Regions from separate parts of the Homo sapiens genome. Here all the other regions are linked to region 4. Evidence: fine-mapped expression QTL. A gene starts in region 4. Each other region holds a variant in brackets. All regions are shown on one strand. Distances are between the middles of the regions. Region 1 overlaps SH3RF3 (SH3 domain containing ring finger 3). Region 2 overlaps SH3RF3 (SH3 domain containing ring finger 3). Region 3 has its middle 43 kb from the start of EDAR. Region 4 holds the start of SH3RF3 (SH3 domain containing ring finger 3). Region 5 overlaps SH3RF3 (SH3 domain containing ring finger 3).

The links.
Region 1: its variant is fine-mapped to the expression of SH3RF3 in whole blood (TOPMed, PIP above 0.99).
Region 2: its variant is fine-mapped to the expression of SH3RF3 in whole blood (TOPMed, PIP above 0.99).
Region 3: its variant is fine-mapped to the expression of SH3RF3 in whole blood (TOPMed, PIP above 0.99).
Region 5: its variant is fine-mapped to the expression of SH3RF3 in whole blood (TOPMed, PIP 0.93).

Annotation. Positions count from the first base shown.
Region 1 is chr2:109,331,631-109,335,746 of GRCh38, forward strand. The region is part of intron 1 of SH3RF3 (SH3 domain containing ring finger 3); the gene reads left to right. It also overlaps a transcript of RANBP2 not described here. Among named protein-coding and RNA genes, the nearest start is that of MIR4266, 20 kb to the left of the region's middle. The variant A/T (reference allele first, on the strand shown) is at 2,459.
Region 2 is chr2:109,222,970-109,227,085 of GRCh38, forward strand. All of the region lies in intron 1 of SH3RF3 (SH3 domain containing ring finger 3), which reads left to right. It also overlaps a transcript of RANBP2 not described here. Among named protein-coding and RNA genes, the nearest start is that of MIR4265, 83 kb to the left of the region's middle. The variant C/T (reference allele first, on the strand shown) is at 2,368.
Region 3 is chr2:109,029,668-109,033,783 of GRCh38, forward strand. It overlaps a transcript of RANBP2 not described here. Among named protein-coding and RNA genes, the nearest start is that of EDAR, 43 kb to the left of the region's middle. The variant A/T (reference allele first, on the strand shown) is at 2,020.
Region 4 is chr2:109,127,255-109,131,370 of GRCh38, forward strand. SH3RF3 (SH3 domain containing ring finger 3) reads left to right here and starts at 1,951. Exons shown (of 10, transcript NM_001099289.3): 1 at 1,951-2,859. The coding sequence starts at 2,287. It overlaps SH3RF3-AS1 (SH3RF3 antisense RNA 1), which reads right to left and starts at 2,865. Exons shown (of 1, transcript NR_029193.1): 1 at 73-2,865. It also overlaps a transcript of RANBP2 not described here. RefSeq lists silencers at 1,167-1,226, 1,607-1,676, 1,687-1,736, 1,767-1,966.
Region 5 is chr2:109,429,048-109,433,163 of GRCh38, forward strand. SH3RF3 (SH3 domain containing ring finger 3) reads left to right here. Exons shown (of 10, transcript NM_001099289.3): 6 at 3,454-3,624. It also overlaps a transcript of RANBP2 not described here. Among named protein-coding and RNA genes, the nearest start is that of MIR4266, 120 kb to the left of the region's middle. RefSeq lists an enhancer at 775-1,338. The variant T/C (reference allele first, on the strand shown) is at 2,299.

The DNA of each region.
Region 1 (4,116 bases), 200 kb after region 4:
TGTCTCTGTCCCCTTATAAAGTGTATGCTCCCTTAAGGTAGAGATGTTTTTATCTATTTTGTTTCTATTTTCTTTATCTATTTTGTTAGTTCCTAGAACCATGTCTGGCACATATTAGGTGGCCAATAAGTACTTGGTGACTGATTGAATGAATATAATATTAAGATGATTTTTTAAAAGTCTCGTGTTCAGATCTTTGCCAGGGGCACCCTGTCATGCCCCTGGGGTCTCCCCTGAGGAGAGACCTCTCACCAGAGGAGCTGCAGTCCACTGCCTCTCTGGAGGGGTTTGCCTGCACCCTCAGCACCTGGCCGATCCTCCGATGGGTCTTCCTGGTGCTGTGACTGTCTGTGACTAGTCGTGGATGCCGGCTGAGCCTGGGAGCAGCGGTTACCGGAAATCTGTGGCTTTCTGCTTTAGCTAAAGAGAGAAGACTGCATGTGTTTGCCAGTCTTTTGGGTGCTTCTGTTTAGCATAGACATTGGCCAAGGCTGCTGGTAAAGAGCACCAGAGAGGCGCTTTACCCATGAGAGGGAAGCATCTGCGGCCCGGAGCCCTCTGCAAGCTGCCTCATGGGACCCCTAACAGACCTTCTTGCCTCTCTGAGTTCAGGGTAGAAACAACCTGCTGATCCGTCTGTTTCCCTCTGGCACGCCAACTCTCTCCTGAGAGAGCTCCTCCTCCTGATTCTGTGTTCTGAGAGTTGCGCCCAGGGGTGCTGCACTTGCTCCTTCCTTCTCAGCCTGTAGCTCAGCTCTGACACTCCCGCGACTCCCCCAGCACCCCGAGCAGGGTGCAGGTCTTCCTGGACGGGCTTGGGGCTGAGTGCAGCAGAAGCAGCACAAGGCTCCTTTGCTGCCTCTGCCCCTAAGGAGTCCCAGGATGTGTGAGGAACAGAGCTTTCTCCTGTCCCGAGCTCCCCGCAGTTCAGCCCTCTCTGGACTAGACAGTTCTGCATTTCTTAGCTCACTGTGCTGTGCTAAGGAAGCCAGGGCTGCCCCGTGGGTGGAACATCCTCTAATTTGCCAGGCAGGAAAGGATGGGGCGATGAGTCACCCTTCTGAGTGATTCCTGCCGAGCTTCCTACAGAACATATCCAGGAGCAGCCACCCCGCCCCCAGGGTTAGTGTGTGGAGGCACAGGTGCTAGTGTGGGTGGTGAGAAATAGGACTCGGAATCACCCTTTTTAACGTGCACAGTATGTTAATTGTGTCCTCACAAAAGTGTTGAAGTGTTTCTTGCCTTATAGAATAAATGGTCAGAAACCAGTGGATTCCTTTGAGCTGTTTTGATGGGAGGAAATTAACTGTGACAGTGAGACCTTGGTGGTCCCAACATCAGCAGGATGCAGAAGACAGCCTAGCCTGCTGGGTCATGTATTCGTCTTCGGCAGCCTGGGATTGGGAATGCGCGTGAGTGCAGAGCTGCTCACTGCCTGGTGCCCTGCAGCTCCAGTGCTGCCTCAGTGCGTTCCAGGAGAGACCTCAGTTTCCAGCCCTAGCTCAAGTCCCAGGGTTGATCTTGCTCGCGGCAGCACCAGGCCTGCACCTCGGAAAGGCATGATGGACTTACCTGTATCTATCAGGTTCAGGCATTCTCCTGCCTGTAGTTGAGAATTCAAGTTCAGGGTGATTAGTTTCGCCTTTTAAAAGAGCCCTAGCATATCCTTGCTGGATATATTCATTGCTGAAATGCACAAGAAACTGAATGTGATCAATGTAATGTATTGGTTTCAGCATCAGATGTTAAGAAAGTGAATCTGTTGAGATTCTTGCTTTTAAAAACACAAAATAAAACAAGCCTAACCTTAGTCAGTCATCCTGGACTTGAGATCACATTTCACAGTCTACAAAGTGAGGTTTCACGTATAGCATACCCCACCTGTTTGTGTAAGTAAAGTTTTATTGGAACACAATCTCACCCACTAATTTACATGGAATCTCTGGAGCTCTGGCTGCTACAATGGCAGAGTTGAATAGTTACAGCTAACACTGATGGCCTGCAAAGCCACCTTGCTCCACTAGAGACAAAGTTTGCTGACCGCTGGCATAGAAGATAAGAGCACAAATTCTGAAACCAAACTGCTAGAGTTTAAATCCCAGCTCTGCCACGTATTGGCAGCATGACCTTGAACATGTTAATTAACCTCTGTGTGACTTAGTTTCCTCCACTGTAAAATGGAGATAATATGGAGATAATAATATCTCCATTATAATATTAATAATTATAATTATGATGATATAATAATGATATCACCAAAATAATACTTGTCTCCTAAGGTTGCTATGAAGTTCAGAAGAATTAATAATGAGGACATGCTCAGAGTACTTTCTGACAAGTGGTAATGTGTTAAATTTTTAAGGAAGTGGGCAGGTTTCTAAGACTTTAGGAAAGTCCAGTCGCTTCCTCAAATCACAGACAGTTGTGCATTTGAAGATCACCTCAAAACCAGGTTCAG[A/T]GGCTCACGCCTATAATCCCAGCGCTTTGGGAGGCCAAAGTGGGAGGACTGTTTGAGCCCACAAGTTCAGCCTGGGCTGTAACATGGTGAGACCCCGTCCCTACAAAAAAATAGAAAAAATTAGCCAGGTGTGGTGGCATGCACCTGTAGTCTCAGCTACTCGAGGGGCTGAGGTGGGAGGATTGCTTGAGCCCAGGAAGTCAAGGCTTCAGTGAGCCATGATCACACCACTCGACTTCAGATTGGGTGACAGTTTTTTTTTTTTCCTTTAAAAAAAAAAAAAAAAAAATCTTAAAAAAAAATAAAGACCACCTCATCATCAGGGTACCTCCCATAGGAAACACAGCCTTGTGGGTGTCTTGGCTTCCTGTTGGTCCAGAACCCTGCGGACTTTCCTCGCAATAAGGGCACAGACTGGCTTGGCTAAAGGAAGGGTGCTAGTGGTGCCAGCCAGCAGGGGAACCCTCACCCGCTCCGGGGATGCCAGGGATGGAGTGAGGCAGCCACAGTGTCCACTGCGCTGATTCCAGCAGGGGATGGCAGCATGGTGACAGGAAGTCACACTTAATAATGCAGACAAGAGGGAAAGGAGACCCACAGACACAGGGAGAAAAAGCTGCAATATGCCTCTTCAACTCATGAGAACAGGAGGCGATGGGCCACAGAGGCTGCTGAAGGAGTTTGTTCCTGCCTCTGTTTTTCTCTCTCCTTCTCCAACTAGAATGTTATGTGCCACTTGCTCCCCTCAGTAGCACTTCCAGGACAGGTGGACTACATATTTGTGGAACCCAGTGTTTTTATTGAGAAGCCTTCTTTTTGCTTTTTAGGCTGGCCTTCCTGGAAAGGTTCTGCTTTTAACTCTTTGCGTGCCTTCCCAGGCCATGCGTCCTGGTGCGAGGCTCTGAGAACGCGATTTATGTCACCGCGTTGGCGACTTACATGTGCTCCCTGATCATTGAAGACACGGTTTTGTCTCTGCCTGGGATCATGGTGGTCATACCACTCCCTGCTTCAAAACCGAACATTTCGTGTTTTCGGAGCAGATTCGTCAGGACGTTTTGCAGCATCCTGGGGTGTTACCTGTTCCTTGCGCCTGATCTAGAGTTCCGAGGCCTACGCACCTCAGAGGAGCAGCTGTGGGGACTGTGGGGCAAGGCCCCTCGCCCGTCCCACACGAGAACGGCTCTTTCTAGCATGTTTTCTCAGGTGTCTCTTTATCCTCTCCCTATGCCTCAAGTTTCCACATTGAAAACTCTCAATGGCGTTTATTTCCTTCTGAGTCTCTGCTGGGCTGTTCCAGCCCTTCCACAGCCCCTACCCTGGGAAGCCCGTACCTCTTCCACACGCCACCTCCTCTCTGCCCCTCAGGGCTGGGACATGCTCGTCGACTAGCCCTCGCTCATCCACGTGTCCCTCAGTTACCTTCTCGATGATGACGTTCTAAGATTTCACCCTATCCCCATCCCAGTGTTCATGTCCCCTCCCCTGGTTTATGTGTCCCCTTAGCACTTAACCACTTTCTGACATTCTCTAGATTTTACTTATTTGTATGTTTTGTTGCTGTCCCCCTGGCTGGAACATAAACTCCACCCGGGTGGGGACCTCTGAGTGTTTTGTTCACTCCCAAACCCCACGCCAGAACCGCACCCCACAAGTAA
Region 2 (4,116 bases), 96 kb after region 4:
ATCAACAGGGTCTGTACTCACTGCACCCTTCAGGGTGAAGAGGGCACTGTCCGCCCCTGTGGCCATCAGATGGTGTGATCCCACCTCTTGGCAGAGGCTGGCACCACGCCCTGATGCTTCTCCATCCCAGACAGGGGGAAGCAGGTGGTTGGAGAGAGGTGGGAGGATGAGGTTGCCACCTTCTCCTGAAACCAGCATGGGTGCTGCTGCCACAGATCATGAATGCTTTGTCCCCCTTTGCTGCCGTCCCATGCAGTCAAGTGCCCTGATAACCAGGAGTTGGCTGTTACCAGATCCAGAGCCCTCAGAGGCTGCGTGAGCACCAGCCACGTGAGCAGCCTACCTGGTGTGTTTCCCAGAGCCGACAGAGCCAAGAGGGGCGTTCTGAAGCCCGAAGAAGCAGGAGTGGCCACTAGGAGCTGCCGTGTGCTCGCTGTGATGGAGTTGCCGAAGTGCTTTGATTCCTCGGTTATTTCAGGCATTGTCCCCCTTTGGGAGTGGGCATGGCCTGCCCATGTCAGTCCTAGGTCAGTGGCTGGAAATGAGCAGAATGGAAGCGTAGGAAGGGCTTGAGGGGTGTGGGCACATGCTTCAGCTGCGGGCTCCATTCAAGCATCGGTGGAGGGCAGTAGCACCATGCAGACAACTGGAGCTCCTTAGTGCTCCCTGGGTAGCCCTGCACCTCTCCATGGCTCTCCCCTGAATTCTGCCCCCCACGTGATGCTGCCCCAACGTGGAGATCCGGGATGTGTCGTTGTCTTTCCTTGCAGAGCCGTGGAGGACAGCCTCTGAGCCATCCCTGCTAGTCTCTGCTCCTGGCACATGAAAGTGTTCAATACATGTTTGTGCAGAAAGTGAAATTAAAATCTGTCCACTTGGTAGCTGGATGTGGTGGCACATGTCTGTTGTCCCAGCTACTCCGGAGGCTGAGGTAGGAGGATCAGATCACTTGAGCCTGGGGGGTGTGGGTTGCAGTGAGCCATGATTGTGCCACTGCACTCCAGCCTAGGTGACAGAGTGAGACTCCGTCTCAAAAACAAATTCAATCAATAAAATCTGTCCACATGGCTCATTAATGGATAGAATGTTAAGAGCTGGAATAGCTTCAGGGTTTACCTAGCCTCGCCCCTTGTTTTACACAAAAAGAAACTGAGGCCTGGTCTCCCACTTCTGCCCCTGCTTGGCAGGCCTAGAGAGTGTGTGTGCATGTGCAAATGGAGGGGGTGTGGGCATTGGGAGTTTAAACTTGGCTTGAATAGCTAATCAGATCTATCAAAATTAGGTTTTTACCAAGCATAGTAAAATAAGACTTGTTTGGTATTATTAGTGATGCTAAAACTATATGTCACATATTGGACAAATAAGCACATTTTCAGATACGCATGTGGGATTTTGATTGCATGCTGGGTTTAGTCCAAGATTAAATCTGCATTTTGTTCTGATGTAAAAGGGACTTGAAGCAGTTTTTGAGGTCATGTGCATAGCAGCAGTGATGGAAATGTCCTGTGTCTGCTCTGTTCAGTACAGTAGCGACCAGCCACAGGTGACTACTGAGCTCATGAATGTGGCCGGCGTGGCTCAGGAAGTGGCTTTTAAAATTTCATTTTGCCAGGCGCAGTGGCTCACACCTGTAATCCCGGCACTTTGGAAGGCCAAGGCGGGCAGATCACTTGAGGTCAGGAGTTCAAGACCAACCTAGCTAACATGGTGAAACCCCGTCTCTACTAAAATACAAAAATTAGCCCAGCATGGTGGTGGGCACCTGTAATCCCAGCTACTTGGGAGGCTGAGGCATTAGAATCGCTTGAAACCTGGAGAGGGAGGTTGCAGTGGGCTGAGATCATGCCACTGCAGTCCAGCCTGGGTGACAGAGCAAGACTCTGTCTCAAAAAAATTTTTTTTCATTTAATTCTAGTCAATTAAAACTGAAATTTAAATAATTACCTGTGGCTAGTGGCTACTCTAATGGACAGCTAGAGAACTGCAGCATAACCTTATCTTTTTAAAAATCTTATTTTAAAAAGAATTTTGTGGGTTTGAAGGAAAGATTGTCTGGAAGAAGGAAGTGACTGAGACATAGCTTTTTGACACCTGGCCTGGAGCCTTTTCGTTTAGACCAACCAACTAAGCTGGATGACACCAGCACAGTCCCTTAAATTCCCTGGCCTCAGTTTCCTCTTGTGTAAAATGAGGTTCTATGGCTTCTGCTAGTTCTGAGATTCTATCTTGCCCCATTCTTGGCAACTGGGATATGAAGAGCTCTATTTTAATAACGATAATAATAAAGAAGGCTTATTAAACACTGGGGATCCGGCTGAATAGTCCTCAAACCATTGTACTCAGCTGGGTGGAGAGACCTGCAAGTAA[C/T]CAAGGGAAGTTTCAAAATGTGGGTTTCCGGGCTCCGCTTGGACCCATTTCACAGGGACCCGAAATCTGCACGTTAACAGGTTTCACAACGATTCTCACACAAACAACTCCCTTTAAAGATACAGGCCAGGCCGACTCCCCACTGGGGACTGGGTGGGCTGACCCACCTGGCCCACTCACACTCACCATGTGGAGTTTTCTCCTGAGAGTTAGGCCAGGGAATGATTTTTAATGTGGGATGCTCCACGTTCCTCTCTGGGACTTCCCATTTGCAATGTCTTAAGTCACTTTCATGTTTGAATTTAGAAAATCAAAAGATGACCGTCTTGTTTCCTGTAAATATCAGGAACAGAGAGGAGAGCAGGTGGTGTGTTTGTCCTAGACTTAAATTTTAAGATTTATTTTTATAAGTTAGTTTCAAGTTTGCTTTCTTTCGTTCTTAAAATTGAGATAGGGTCTCGCTCTGTTGCCCGGGCTGCACTGCAGAAGTGCGATCCCGGCTCACTGTAGCCTTGACCTCCTGGGATGAAGTGATCCTCCCCTCTCAGCCTCCCGAGTAGCTGGGACTATAGTCGCTTTCCACCATGCCAGCTAAAAGTTTGCTTTCAAAGAGTCCCTATTCTAATCTGTTGTTGGAGCTCTCCACAATGAATCACCAAAATACCATTTTAATATTAGAGTAGTATTTTGTCAGGAAAAAATAGGCCTGACCCTGAACAACTTATCTGCATAGCTGTAATATTGTCATTTTTGACTCAGGCTAAATCACTTGTTAATTTTAGGAGGAAATGTCAGAGGAGGTTGTCCCCAAATAGCAGTTATTATCTGTTTCCCAGGTTTATGAACCCAGCTCACAGCTCTGCTTGTCAACATCTGCAGAAGGAACTTAGAGAAAGACTGGCTCCTTTTACATTTTTTTTGTTACAATAGTTAATGTAAGAGTAGTTATGTAAACAGATCAATAAGCTCATTTTGAACATGACCCTGCCAACTGTTTCAAAGCTAAAGTCACATTGACTCAGGAAGGTCAGCTGTTTCATCTACAGTGTCTGTGGCCCATGGAGGAACTGGAGCCATGTGAGGTCTAATGACACACGTGGCCCATGTGCAGTCCTCATCGTTAAGTAAGTACCCTGCTGACCTCTTAAGACATAAACCAAAAATAAACTGTAGCAACCACTTCTTTTTAAGTCCCTTTAAAGTTTAGATTTTTACTGTTCTTAGGGTGACTTTGTGGCTCATCACTCTTAGCTTTTTCTCATTGCTTCTTGAATCGCTCCCCTTTCCTGAGTGTTTCTTGGTCTGCCATCTTGACTTCTCCCGGGGCCATGCATCTGCTCCCTTTGTGGCTCCGTTTGCTCCTAAGTCTTTGCAGGATCTCCACGCAGAAGGCGTGGTGCTGGATCTTTAGGGGACATTCAGATATAGACATGCTTTGTGCCATTAAGGAACTTGTGGCTTAGTAAGAAGAACAGCTGGTTACAGAAATGAACCAGGACCCCTACAGCTGCAGGAGAGAAACTAACTGGAATCAGTCAAAACACAGAGAGAAGCAAAGCCGTGTGGTGGCCCAGATAACCAAGGGTCCTGAGGTAGATGCATCCACCATGGCCGGGTTCATGGCTCAGATGATGCCATCAGGACTTGGTCTCTTTCTAGCTCTGGGTCCCACCAAGCTTTTCCATGGTGGCCTAGCAGCTCCACTGTCCTCTTCATAGGTGCAAGAGGGCTTTAGGGGTCTTTGTCATG
Region 3 (4,116 bases), 98 kb before region 4:
CTGCCTGCTGCCTGTGCTGTCTCCTCTGTTCCCCTCTCCTTTCCTGGCTGGAACAGCTGCAGGACAGGGCCCCCCGGCAGCCATCATCCAGCCTTTCATCTCTATCCTTGTCTCCAGCCTTGCCAGCAACTTAAGCCTAATCATTGCACAATGAAAGGCTGTTTCTCTCAAATGGATGCAGACATCCTTAGCCTTCAGGGGCAGCCTCTTATTTTGCTCACAGATAAGGCTGTTTATTTTAAAGAAATACTATACTAATAACCCTCTTGACTTGACAAGGATCCTGGTTGCTATCTCTGTATTGATGGATTGATTGATTCATTCATTCAGTAAGCATTTACTGAGTGCCAGTTCGAGTGTGTGGGTGAGTCTTAGATTTACTGCCTCCTTGACATCATTCTTTAGAAAGAATTCTTTGACTCTAACTTTTGTTTGCTACCTCAGAATGTTCTGCCTATGCAAAGAACAGTTTCAAATCAACCTGGATTCGAGAGCTCATGAAACTGATCCTCAGCCTTCATTTTCAGCCTTTTCCTCAATCCTCCCCTGCACAGCCAGCTGGCTCAGCACTCTCCCCAGCAGGCCATGCGCTCAAGTGCTTTACCTTCAACATTTTCCCACTGAAGACCCAGCCTTCTCCTCTAGCCAAATTATGGTATGCTACGTAAAATTCCTTAGAATTCTATTTTAAGTGAATTTCACGTAAGTAAAGCCCATTGTTAATGTCATTGGAAAGGTTATTTTTAAATGAAGAGGTGTGCCATACCCTGCCAAATGTGATAATGTGTATAGTAGCACCTAGCACAGTGCCTGGTGCATTCTGGATAGACAGTAAATATGACCTGAATGAATGAAAGAATGGGCCTCACTGTCTGATGGGATGAGGCTCCCTGAGAAGGAGTGGGGAGTGGTGGCCTCTTTGAGGATGACCAGCAGGCTGTTAAGCAGAAGGCTCCTTCTAGAATTGTACTTTCCTGAGTACCTAGGACCAGCTTGGGGCCCCTCAGGCATCTGAATTTTTGGACCACTTTGGTTTATATAACCCACTTCTTATCCAGGTTCTGTCTCTTGACAGTTTTTGTTGTTGTTGTTGTTGTTTGTTTGTTTTCTAGGTCTCACTATGTTGCCCAGGCTGGTCTTGAACTCCTGGGCTCAAGCAGTCCTTCTGCCTCGGCCTCCAGAGTAGCTGGGACCACAGGTGCACCACACCCGACTTTGGCAGTTTTTTAACATCTCCCAAGTCTTTATTTTCTTGGTAAAATGGTTTAATAATTGGTATATATACTCATAACTAGTACACAGACTAACACAGTGTGCATGTATACCACCATCAGTGTCATCTGCACCTTTTGTCTCACTGACTCATGGTAAGACACGGAGCGCTCCACGAGGGGACGCCATGTGTGGAGATGCTGGAGTCTAAGGGTATTGTGATTGGGCAATGGTAAGAACTCCGGGTCCCTAAGTCCATTCCTGCTGCTACAACAAAACACCTTAGAGAGTAATTTATAAATAGCCATTTCCTTTTCACCGTGCTGGAGGCTGGAAGTCCACCATCAAGGTGTCAGCAGTGAGGGGGGCCTGTTCCTCACAGATGGGGGCTTCTTGATGGGTGCTGGCTGACTCAGCACAGATGGGGGCTCTGATGTGGCAGGGGTGGGGTAGAGACGGGAACGCTCTGCAGAAGGAGCGGAAGGGAGGAAACAGCTTCCTCCAGCCTTCTTATAAGGTTATCAGCCCCGTTCCCCTTACGACGGAATCACTTCCCTGGAGGCCCCCTCTTACTACTGTTGCACCGGGGACTGGGCTTCAATCAGTAGCAGCAGGGGATGCGCGCTCAGACCCAGCAGTCGGCTCTGCCCGCCTCGCCGGGCTGCACCGAGTCCGCGGGTCTCTAGCGCACGGCCTGGCCCCACGTGCGGCGAGGAGGGCGCAGTGAAGTTCTGCTGTGTGCACCCCCTGCAGCTCGGCCGGGAAGCGCCCGCTGGAGGAACGGAGAGCGCCGCTTCAGCGTCGGCC[A/T]CGTGGGCCGGGCTCTGCCGGTGGCAACCTGGACGCGCTGCGGGCGCCGGCGAGACCTGCGCCAACGCCTACCTCCGGGCCACAGGCGGGATAAAGCTGCCCCACTTTGCCCCCAGCGAAGAGAACCCTCCTTCCTCTAAGTATTTTCTTCAGCAACTAAGCTTTTCTGTTTGCTCAATTTCTTGTCCCGTGAGCGCTACCACCCACCCCCCGCCACCTTCTTCCCCTCCCCCCACATCCGTTCACTCTCTTTGACCTTTTGCCAAAACTCTGAACGCTCGCTGCCCTCCCTCCCATTTCCTCACCGCGTTTCAGGAGCTGTAAGTTCTTGGTGTTCAAACCCCCTACGGTTACGTAAACAGAACTCTGCAGTTATCTTCTTTCCCTTTCTTCGGAGCTTTGTTTTCAAGTTCATTAGAGACTTCCTGTGGGTGTAATTACCGCTCTGCAGTTTTGAGCGCTGCCCACCTTCCCCCTGTTTTGTTAAAAATGTCATAGATCTTTGGAGATTTCTTTCACTTCTAAAGTTATTACCTGTCTGCCTGCACATCAATCTTGTTGATTTTATTTCAGGGCATTTTCCGGAGTGAACTTCTGCATAGCGATTTTTTTTGTCCCTCCCCACCCCCTCTTTGTTTTGCAGGAAGGTGAAATAAGACAGAAGAAAAGGGTTAGAACTTTAGAACTCCAGGACCCAACCTCAGTCCTTTCAAGCACCGTCTGCAAACAGATGCTGTGCTAGACTCAGCACCCTGTCTGGTGAAACTGCTCCTTGGGGTGACATCGGTCGAATGTGTGAGAGGCTTCAGCGGATGCCCTGACTTTTACACCATGGAAGGGCTTTCTCCTCACTCTCCATTCTTCATCCCACTCCATCCATGCGCTTTCTCCCCTCCCCATGGGGTGGGGTGGGGGAGTCTTTCCTCCAGCTGAGAGCAGAGGCCTTGGCCAACTAGATGTGTCTTCTGGGATTTCACAGTCGGGCCACCTCTCACCTCTTGCACAGGCTGGTGGGTTAAATGAAACTCCTGTAGCAACTCACAGAGCATTTGATTTAAAGCTAAGATTTATAGGAACTCACAAGTCAGAATGGAACAATAATTTCCCTCCGGTTGCACTGCCACTACTGAGGAGCAATCGCCTAATTCCACACAGAGTTTGCTGATTCTGTGGGCCTAACAGAGAACTCCAGATGGGCAACTAGGAGCTAAGAAGTGCATCCTATGTCACCAGGAGCTAATTTTCCCTGGATTTTCAAAGAGGCCTCATATTTGACCCATGTCATGGCAGGGTGAAATATAAGTCCTTCCTGAACCCTTGGAAGCTGAACGTTGTGGACATCAGCCATGGGAAATACATTTCCTTTAAACTGATCACCAGGCCTTAGTATGATCCATGCCTTGAGTGGACAGAGACCTTTCATGTTTGGTCATTACTCAGCCAGACACTTCTCTGAGAGGTGATGACTTCCCTAGGAAGGAATAACAAAGCCCCTTTCAGGCTGTTGATGGGCCCTGTCCACTTTAATTTTGCATTCAGCCTCGCTCATTTCTGTGAGCTGAGATTTTGATTATTCTGATTTCCACGACTCCTTTTGTGAAACAGAGACACTGAGGTGAATGCACGGGCCCAGTCCCCTCCTTTTTGAGTGTGCCCTCGGAAGCAGAGGCAGGTGGTGTTGCCGAAACACCCAGGTTCTGTCTAGGTCCTGCCGCTCCCTGCACAGAAAGCCAATCACAGAGATGACAAGTATTGCCAAGGAAGAAGGCTTTAATCAGGTGCTGTAGCTGAGAAGATGGGAGCCCAGTCTCAAATCCATCTCCCCATCCACCTAAAACTAGGGGTTTATACACCAGGGAAGAAAGATAACAGTGTGTAAGAAAACAGGAACTACGGAGGGGCAAGGAAGCAGTCACAATGTAGGGTATCTCATTGTCTGGATGTGTTGATCTGGTGAGTTTCCCTTCTTTGATGATACTTTTTTTTTGAGAGGCGGTGGCTCATGCCTGTAATCCCAGCACTTTGGGAGGCTGAGGCGGGTGGATCATTTGAGGTCAGGAGTTCGAGACCAGCCTGGCCAACATGGTGAAACCCCGT
Region 4 (4,116 bases):
TGCCTTCAAATCACCAGTAGGTGATGAGAGAGAGAGAGAGAGAGAGGGAGAGAGAGAAAGAGAGACGTATCCTTTCATTAATTCTACAAATATTTATTGAACACCTACTATATGCTAGTCACTGCCCTAGGCACTAAGGATATTACAGTAGAAAAGATCTGTAGCTTACAGAGAGCTTACATTCTAATGGCATGTAAACTTTATGTGTTAGTTCTGTGGATACAAAAATGAAAATTCAGCCCCAATGGCTTTACAAGTATGAATATCACTTTCCTCATTTGTAAAATGAGTTTAAAATAATTATCACAGGTTGGGCACCGTGGCTGGCGCCTGTACTCCCAGCACTTTGTGAAGATGAGGTTGGAGGATCTCTTGAGCCCAGGAGTTTGAGACTAGCCTGGGCAACATAAGGAGACCCTGTCGCTACAAAAAATTTAAATTAAAAATTTAGCCAGGCGTGGTGGCGCACCTGTAGTTTCAACTATTCAGGAGGCTGAGGTGAAAGGATGGCTTGAGCCCAAGAGTTTGAGGCTGCAGTGAGCCGTGATAGCACCCCGCGCTCTAGCCTGCCTGACAGAACGAGATCCTGTCTAAAGCTATGGAAGTAAATATAAATAAATAAAATAATTATCTGGCAGAGCTGTTTAGAGGATTAAATAATATATAGCACGCTCTTGGCCTTTTAGCCTCAACAAATACTACTTTTTTCCTTAATAATAACAGAAAGATCATACAACTTCACAAACCACAAGGACAGGCTGGCCGATAGGCAGGCCCCCCACGACTCTTCTGATGTTAGCCCTGACTGAACTCGCTGTGCAGCGTCCAACCAATCCTGGTTTGTGCTGGGCCCTGGACTGGAACCCAGCCCTTCCCGACGGGAACGCAAAGCGGCCACGAGGGGGCAGCGCACGGCAGGGAATCTTCGCCGCCGACCCCAGCCCACCGCCAAACTTCCCTGCTGCTCTCGGTCCTCCTGTACGTACTTCCGTTGCTCTGACGCTCCCAGAAGCCGGGGCGTCGGGAAGGAGAGCGCGAATTCACCCTCCTCTGCGCCTCCGTAGGAAAAAATTGGAGCGGGGGTTCACGAGACTGCGCCGCGGCGGGCGCTAGAGCCCCTCGCACAGCGTCGCCAAGGGTGCGGCGTGGAGCCGGGCGCCTGGCGCCAGGGTGCTGGTCGGCGGGCAGCGGCGCCAGCCTCCGACCCGCGACTCCGGCGAGCCAAGGCTGCGCCGGGAGGAGTCGGCGCGGGCCCCGGGGTGCCCCCTTCAACTGGAGCGCCTTCCCCTCCTGCCTTGCGGCGCATCCCCACACCTACACCGGAACGAAGCTCCGGGGCTGTCACTTCTGCGCGCTTCTCGGAAAGGAGTCTGAACTGGGAGCGCTCCGGGGGGTCGTCGGGGAGGATGCCCGGGCGTCGGCTGTGTCCCCAAGCTGCTCGCCGGCGCTGGCGAGGAAGGCAGTCGGGATAACGCCGCCCAAACTTTCCTTCGCAGCAGCGTTGGCAGGAAACGTCCCTCTCTGAGGCTCACGAAAAGCCGAAAAAGACTCGGACGCTTGGAGGAGGCAGGGCCAAGCCTGCGCAGGAGAGGTTCCCCGGAGCCCTGGAGATGTCCTAGGGGACCAGGCTAATCGCCGGCTTGCGCCCAAGCGAAGGGAAGTCCTGCAGGCACGGCGCCTCCTTCCCTGAGCCCCGCAGTGACCGTGACCTCCGCGCGCACCCCCGCGCACGTGCTCGCGGCCGAGGAAGAGGAACGGTCCTGCTGAATCCTCTGGAGGACAGCGACTAGCGAGCAGGCCAGGGGCGCATGGAGGTGCCGCGGGGGCGGTGCGGCTCGCCAGCTGCGCGGAGGAGCGTGCACGCCGCGCCCCGGCCTCCCCGGGGACCTGGCCGGCCGCTGCCCGCACTTCCTGCCGCTGGTCTCCCAGGCGCGAGCCGCCGCTTGCAGCACAGAACCCGTTGAGCTTCGTGCCCGGCAGCACCCCCGGTCCCCCGCGCGGGGCGGACTTGCGGCGGGACAGGTGTAGCCCGCAGCCGCAGGCGCTGCGCTCAGGACTGGGCGGGCTCGGCTGGCCGGTCCCCGCCACGCAGGCCGGTCCCCGCCACGCAGGCCGGTCGGTGAGCCACTTCGCACCGCCACAGCCCTAGCATCGGGCCACCAGCCGGGGTGAAGAAAGTCACGGCGGAGCCCGGCTCCCCAGTCCTGATGCTGGCTGCCGGTGGCGGGCTCCACGCCGGCCCCGGGACCTAGGCAGCCGCGCGAGACCGCTGCGGGCGCCTCCCCCATGCTGCTCGGAGCGTCCTGGCTGTGCGCATCCAAGGCGGCCGCCGCTGCTGCGCAGAGCGAGGGCGACGAGGACAGGCCAGGCGAGCGACGGCGGCGTCGGGCGGCGGCCACCGCCGCGGGGGCGGGCGAGGACATGGACGAGTCGTCGCTGCTGGACCTGCTGGAGTGCTCCGTGTGTCTGGAGCGCCTGGACACCACGGCCAAGGTGCTGCCATGCCAACACACTTTCTGCCGCCGCTGCCTGGAGAGCATCGTGTGCTCGCGCCACGAGCTGCGCTGCCCCGAGTGCCGCATCCTGGTGGGCTGCGGCGTGGACGAACTGCCCGCCAACATCTTGCTGGTGCGACTGCTGGACGGCATCCGTCAGCGGCCCCGCGCGGGCACCAGCCCCGGCGGCAGCCCGCCCGCGCGTCCCATCCCAGGCCAGAGTGCGGCCCCCACGCTCGCGGGCGGCGGGGGCGGCGCGGCAGGCAGCACCCCGGGTTCCCCGGTTTTCCTCTCCGCGGCCGCGGGCAGCACCGCCGGCAGTCTGCGGGAGCTGGCGACCAGCAGGACCGCGCCGGCGGCAAAGGTGAGTATCTGTCTCGGCGGAAGTGGCCACGGCACGTGGGAGTGTGTGGGTGGGTGCTTGGGCGTGGGGGGCAGTGATGAGGTGCGGAGGAGACCACGGGTGGTCCTGCGTTGGCCCACTCCGCTGTTGCTCTTCCTCCAACTTCGCTTGCTTGGTGGCGGCATCCGGCCCCTGGGCAGCTCGCCGCTTGTTCACGTGTGTCCCATCCTCCTGTGGAGTGGGCACGCCTTCCTGTCCCGTCGCTCACCCCCGATTCCTTGGCCGGACTTGTTACCCTGCCTCTTAAACTTAGCATCGCCCTTGCGTCTCCCTAGAAACGGGGACCTTCTTCCTCTGGGTCCCCAGACACTCCCTCTGCACACCCTGGGCCTGCCTAGAGAAAAGTTAGCCCTTAACGTTTCTGACAGGGCTCTGATGGCTGCTCTGGGAAGCCCGCGGGCCTCCTGCCTGCGGTGTGGCTAAGGAGGGGAGGGCAGAAGGCAGAGTGGGACTGGGGTTTGGAGGAATGCTTCTAGTAGTCTGGAAGGAGTTAATCTGGAGGCCCCAGGAGCCTTTTGACCCAGCCCTTTTGGACTTGGCAGTGTCTAACCAGAAGCCAAGGTCTTCTCCTGGGCTCCCAGGCAGGGTTGCATTCCCACGGGGGTCATTTATATTTATTATTATTATTTTTGGTACAGCCGCATTTTAGGGCCTTCGCTGCTTCTGTTTTAGACGAAAGATCTTCTCTGGATGGCTTCAATGATTTGGTTTTAAAAGCTTCTTACAGCTTCTTATTACACACCCTTGCCACCTTGTGAACAGTTACCAGGAGAGAGGGCATGGGATGCTGGTTTAAATGAGAAAAGAAAGGACCCGGGTTTTGTTAATTTCTTTAAATGGAGAAAAGCACTTAAATGTTAAAAAAAATACATTATCTATTGGAATAATCATTTGCTTTAGAAACACAACTTTATTCCTCTACTTTTGACCATTTAAGGAGTTGGTGATGCCTAGTCCTTCCACTATGTGTAATCCTGAAATGCTGGGAACATTCTAGCACCTGGATTAGGCAGTACTGCAAATCTCTAAGGTTAAGGTTAGGAACTTAAACCCTTGGATGTTGAGCTTGAGTTAAATGCCATACTTTGCTGCAATGGGTTTTTTTTTCTATGGATCAGGAAGAATGGGGACAGTCAAGGATAGTCACTGGGGGTCACTTGGGGGGCACTGCTGAAGGGGAATTTTTTTCTTTGGTTTTAATTGTGATTAAATCCAGCT
Region 5 (4,116 bases), 300 kb after region 4:
CAGGGTAACAGGCGATGCCACTGTGGCTGCAGGGGGCAGCGGCAGAGACCCTGAGAGGTGGGAGGGAGGCAGGTTGGGAAGGGCCGGTCTCGGCACAAATTGCTCTTCAGTGTGGTCCCTCCAAGGCCTCCTCTTGAGTACCTCAGAGAGGACAGCAGATGCAGTTGACCCCCACCCGGGCCAAGGCCCACCCAACACGAGCCGCATGCCAGAAAACAGACCCAGCACATCCATCTGCTTTTGGTGTCCCCTACGAGGCACCCAGAGGAAAAAAAGTAGGCAGAGAAGAGATTTTTCAAAGTGAAGCTAGGCTTATTTACATTCCAGTTCCCCCAGCAACCTACACCTAGAGGCCGAACTTAAAATAGAGATCAGAGTGAAGGATTACTCATCAACAGAACGAACTTAAAATTTAAGATGAAGAGGCCAAGTGCACTAGTGCCCTGGTGCACGTCAGGGCAGCATCTCCCTACGCGTTGGCCACACCGGGCCTGTGCTTGGAGTGAGGAGCCAACATACCCCATTCAGGACCCCAGCCTCCCCGGGCCACACCTCTGTGCAACTGCAGCTCTCATCTTGCCCAAGCCCTGCCCCAGCTGTGCCCCAGGCCGCGCTGACAGCTCCAGCAGCCCAGCCCTGGCCCTACCCCTGAACATGCGTGACCATGGACAGAAGCTCCATCCCCTCGAGCTTTTGTGTCCGCAGCTGTGAAACATGTGCAAGAAGGCCACAGACAGCCCTGGGGAGGAAGCACGTTGCACAGGGCCACCCGAGCAGAGGTAGCCCTGCTAGGGGTTCCATGCTCCCAGGCCACCAAGCTCCACGCTGTGCAGGGAGCCTGCAGTAGCCTGGAGGGAGAAGTGGCCCAGCCCCAGTCAGCGGGTGTAGCCGCAGCCAATCCACGGAACAAGGCCTCCACAGAGCACAGCCCACCCCACACAGGCCACTGAGCCCCTAGCTCTGCACCTTGCCTACCAGCCCAGGAGCAGGAGGGAGAGGAGTCCGTGAGCTGTGGTCAGCAGCTAGGGCGTGTTCTGAGCCTGCCTTGGCAGCTGATGAGCCCCCCACTCCAGAGGAAAGGCAGCCCCGGACCCCAGAACCAACTAAAAGGAGCTGTTGGTGCGGCCTGAGTTGCATACTGTTGCCCATGGCCAGGAGCCAACCCGGCTGCGCATTCTGCATGTGGCCACTGAAGCAAACTGTTTTGACACCATAAAGCAACAGATGAGGCTAACTTAAGCAGGATTTACACTCAATTGTATTTCTCTGAGAGCAGGCACATCAATTTGTGCGTCATTGTTACTGATTCACAAGCCTTCCACGGATCCAAGTCCTCCCTGCACTCTTCCTCTCCTCTTCTGCCTTCCTTTGCCTCAGCCCAGGCTGTGTGGAAGCCACCCTCCTCTCCTCTCCCCTTCTCTTTCTTCCTCTGTCCTCTCCCCGTCCTCTCCCATCCTCTCCCCATCTCCTCCTCCTCCCTCCTCCTCCCTCCATCTCTCTCATCCCCTTTCTTTCACCTCTCCCCGTTCTCCTCTCCTCCCCTCCAGCTTCCCTGCACAATACACAGGTACGTGTTGGCTGCAGTTGTTTGTCATTTTCACTGGACTTTTCCCTTAGTGGTATTTCCTCTATGGTGATGGGAACAGAATCACACCCTGGTTTCTCTCCATTTGTCACCTAGACATAGCATTGAAACTGTGAACGTGGTGGGGTGGCGGGGTCCTCTCCTGATGATTTTGTGTATCCTCCTGAAGCCCAGAGTTGGTCCTAATTTCACTGTCAGTGTTCACCATTTCAAACAGGGAAAGAAACAAAGATGCCAGCCACAGTTGGAGCCCACAGCATGTCCCTAGGAGGAGGGCATGAGGGACACCTATCAACAAAGGAAATAGCCAAGGTCATTGAATGAGGGCAGAGGGCCTTGCTATGTAGGATTAGGATGTTCGAAAAGGGGGGCAGATTTCATATTAAGGCCAAGAAACTTTTAATCTCTACAAGGTTCTCCTGCTATTCCAGAATATTCCACACTGGTTCTTTTTTCCTGCTTGAGCCCTCGTGAGCTGCATTCTGTTTCTGTTTTCACTTCTAAGTGGGGTTCCTCCAGCATCAGGAGGGTGCAATGGTGGGGTCTATGAGCTTCCCTCATATCCCCAGAGATGCACTGTGTGCACAAGCCGCTGGATAGGGTCAGCATCCCCACCCAGCAGCCTGCACTGGTGTGAGGTCCACCAGATCACTCTTCATTAACATTCATCTTTGGTCTCTTAGTGAACTGAGGCCTCCACCAGCTTCCGTGGC[T/C]GAATCTTGTGAGCAAATAAAATAATCTGGTATGTTCTCTCCCTCCGTTCAAAACCAACCTTCCCCAAATCCCAAAAGTAGCAGAGCACTTTTGTAAGTATTATCCAATCTTTACAAGGAAAAGATATAGGTATAGTTAAGTATTTTATGAGAGTAGCTTGGCCCATGGGCTGAGTTAGAGGCACAGCATCTAAACCCTAAGCTGGGATTTTCACCACTAAATTTGCTCTTTCCTTATTTGCAAATAAGACTTAAAATTAAGGCTGGTGTAATCCCAGCACTTTGGGAGGCTGAAATGGGAGGATTGCTTGAGACTAGGAGCTCAAGACCAGTCTGGGCAACATAGTGGGACCCCATCTTTACAAAAAATAAAAAACTTAGCCAGCATGGCGGTGCACACCTGTGGTCCCAGCTGCTTAGGAGGCTGAGGTGGGAGGATCACTTGAGCCCAGGCCATTGAGGCTGCAGTGAGCTATGCTTGTACCACTGCACTCCAGCCTGGGTGACAGGGTGAGATGCTGTTTCAAAAAAAAAAAGGTCAAGTAATTAACCATAGCACAATTACTGCAAGGAAGTGTGCAACCACAGTTTTCTAACTTAACCACCTTTCCCTTAAAAAGGGCCTCTGAGGTCTCTTCCACCTCTGGTTGATTGGATAAGCCAGGCAGGAAAACCAGGCCAGGTTATATTAAGTGAGGAAAACCCAGCCCAAGAATAGCTTAGCTCACCCTCAGTTTTCCCTAAGGTTTCCCTTGCTCAGAGCATCAGACTTTAGAAGAGGAAAACACTGGAAATCCAAAGAGCTGGCCCTGGGATGCAGTTCAGAGAGTCCTTGAGGGCTTTGGGGTCACTGGGCCTTAGGGAGCTGCCTTCCTATCTGTCAGATGGGCAGGTGGAATCCTCCTAAGGCTGTGGGTGACAGGCACACCCCTCCCCTGCAGGCAGCTCCCCGAAGGCTCCCTGCCTCGTGGGTTTGTTATGAGGAGTGAGCTGGGGAGGGTGTGTGAGGCCTCTGTAAACTGCAGAGCCCCCATAGACTCTAGTGGGTCTTTTTAGGTTGGGTTCCTCCAAAGACAACCTCCCCCCAGGAATGCCGGCCGGTCCCCTATCCCCAGGAGGGCTCCCACTGACACTGGCCCCATGCTTTGCCCGCAGGTACCTGGCGCTCTACGCCTACAAGCCCCAGAAGAGTGACGAGCTGGAGCTGCACAAGGGAGAGATGTACCGGGTCCTCGAGAAGTGTCAGGATGGCTGGTTCAAGGGGGCGTCTCTGAGGACCGGGGTCTCTGGGGTGTTCCCCGGAAACTACGTGACACCCGTTTCCAGGTGAGGGCATGGTGGTGGCAGCCTGGGCAAGGAGAGGGCAAGGGCCTGCACGCCTTACCGCTGTTGTTACTGCTGGAGGCTACTCTGTCAGCCGGGCCCAGAAGGCAGCAAGGCCACCAGTGCCCAGGGTTCAGCCCCCACTGGCGTCCCCAGGCCCACATTTCACCTTCTGAGCTGGGTTTGCACTCAACTCCTTGGCTGTCCTCAGCAGACATTGGCCACCAAGGGGAGAAGAATGGGATCAGGAGGAGCAGGGACAGGAAAGTCACCAGAATGAGGTCTCAAGTGTGAATGTGTGTTTGTGTGAGGACAGTGTGTGCACATATATACAGTGTGTTCAGCGTGTATGCTATGCGTGTGCAGTGTGTGCACGCTTCTGTGTGCTTGTGTGCATGGTATTTGTGCATGTGTGCAGAGTATGTGCAGTGTGCGTGCCTGTGCACGTGCGTATGCATACTGTAAGCACAAGGTGTGTGCGTGTGTGCATAATGT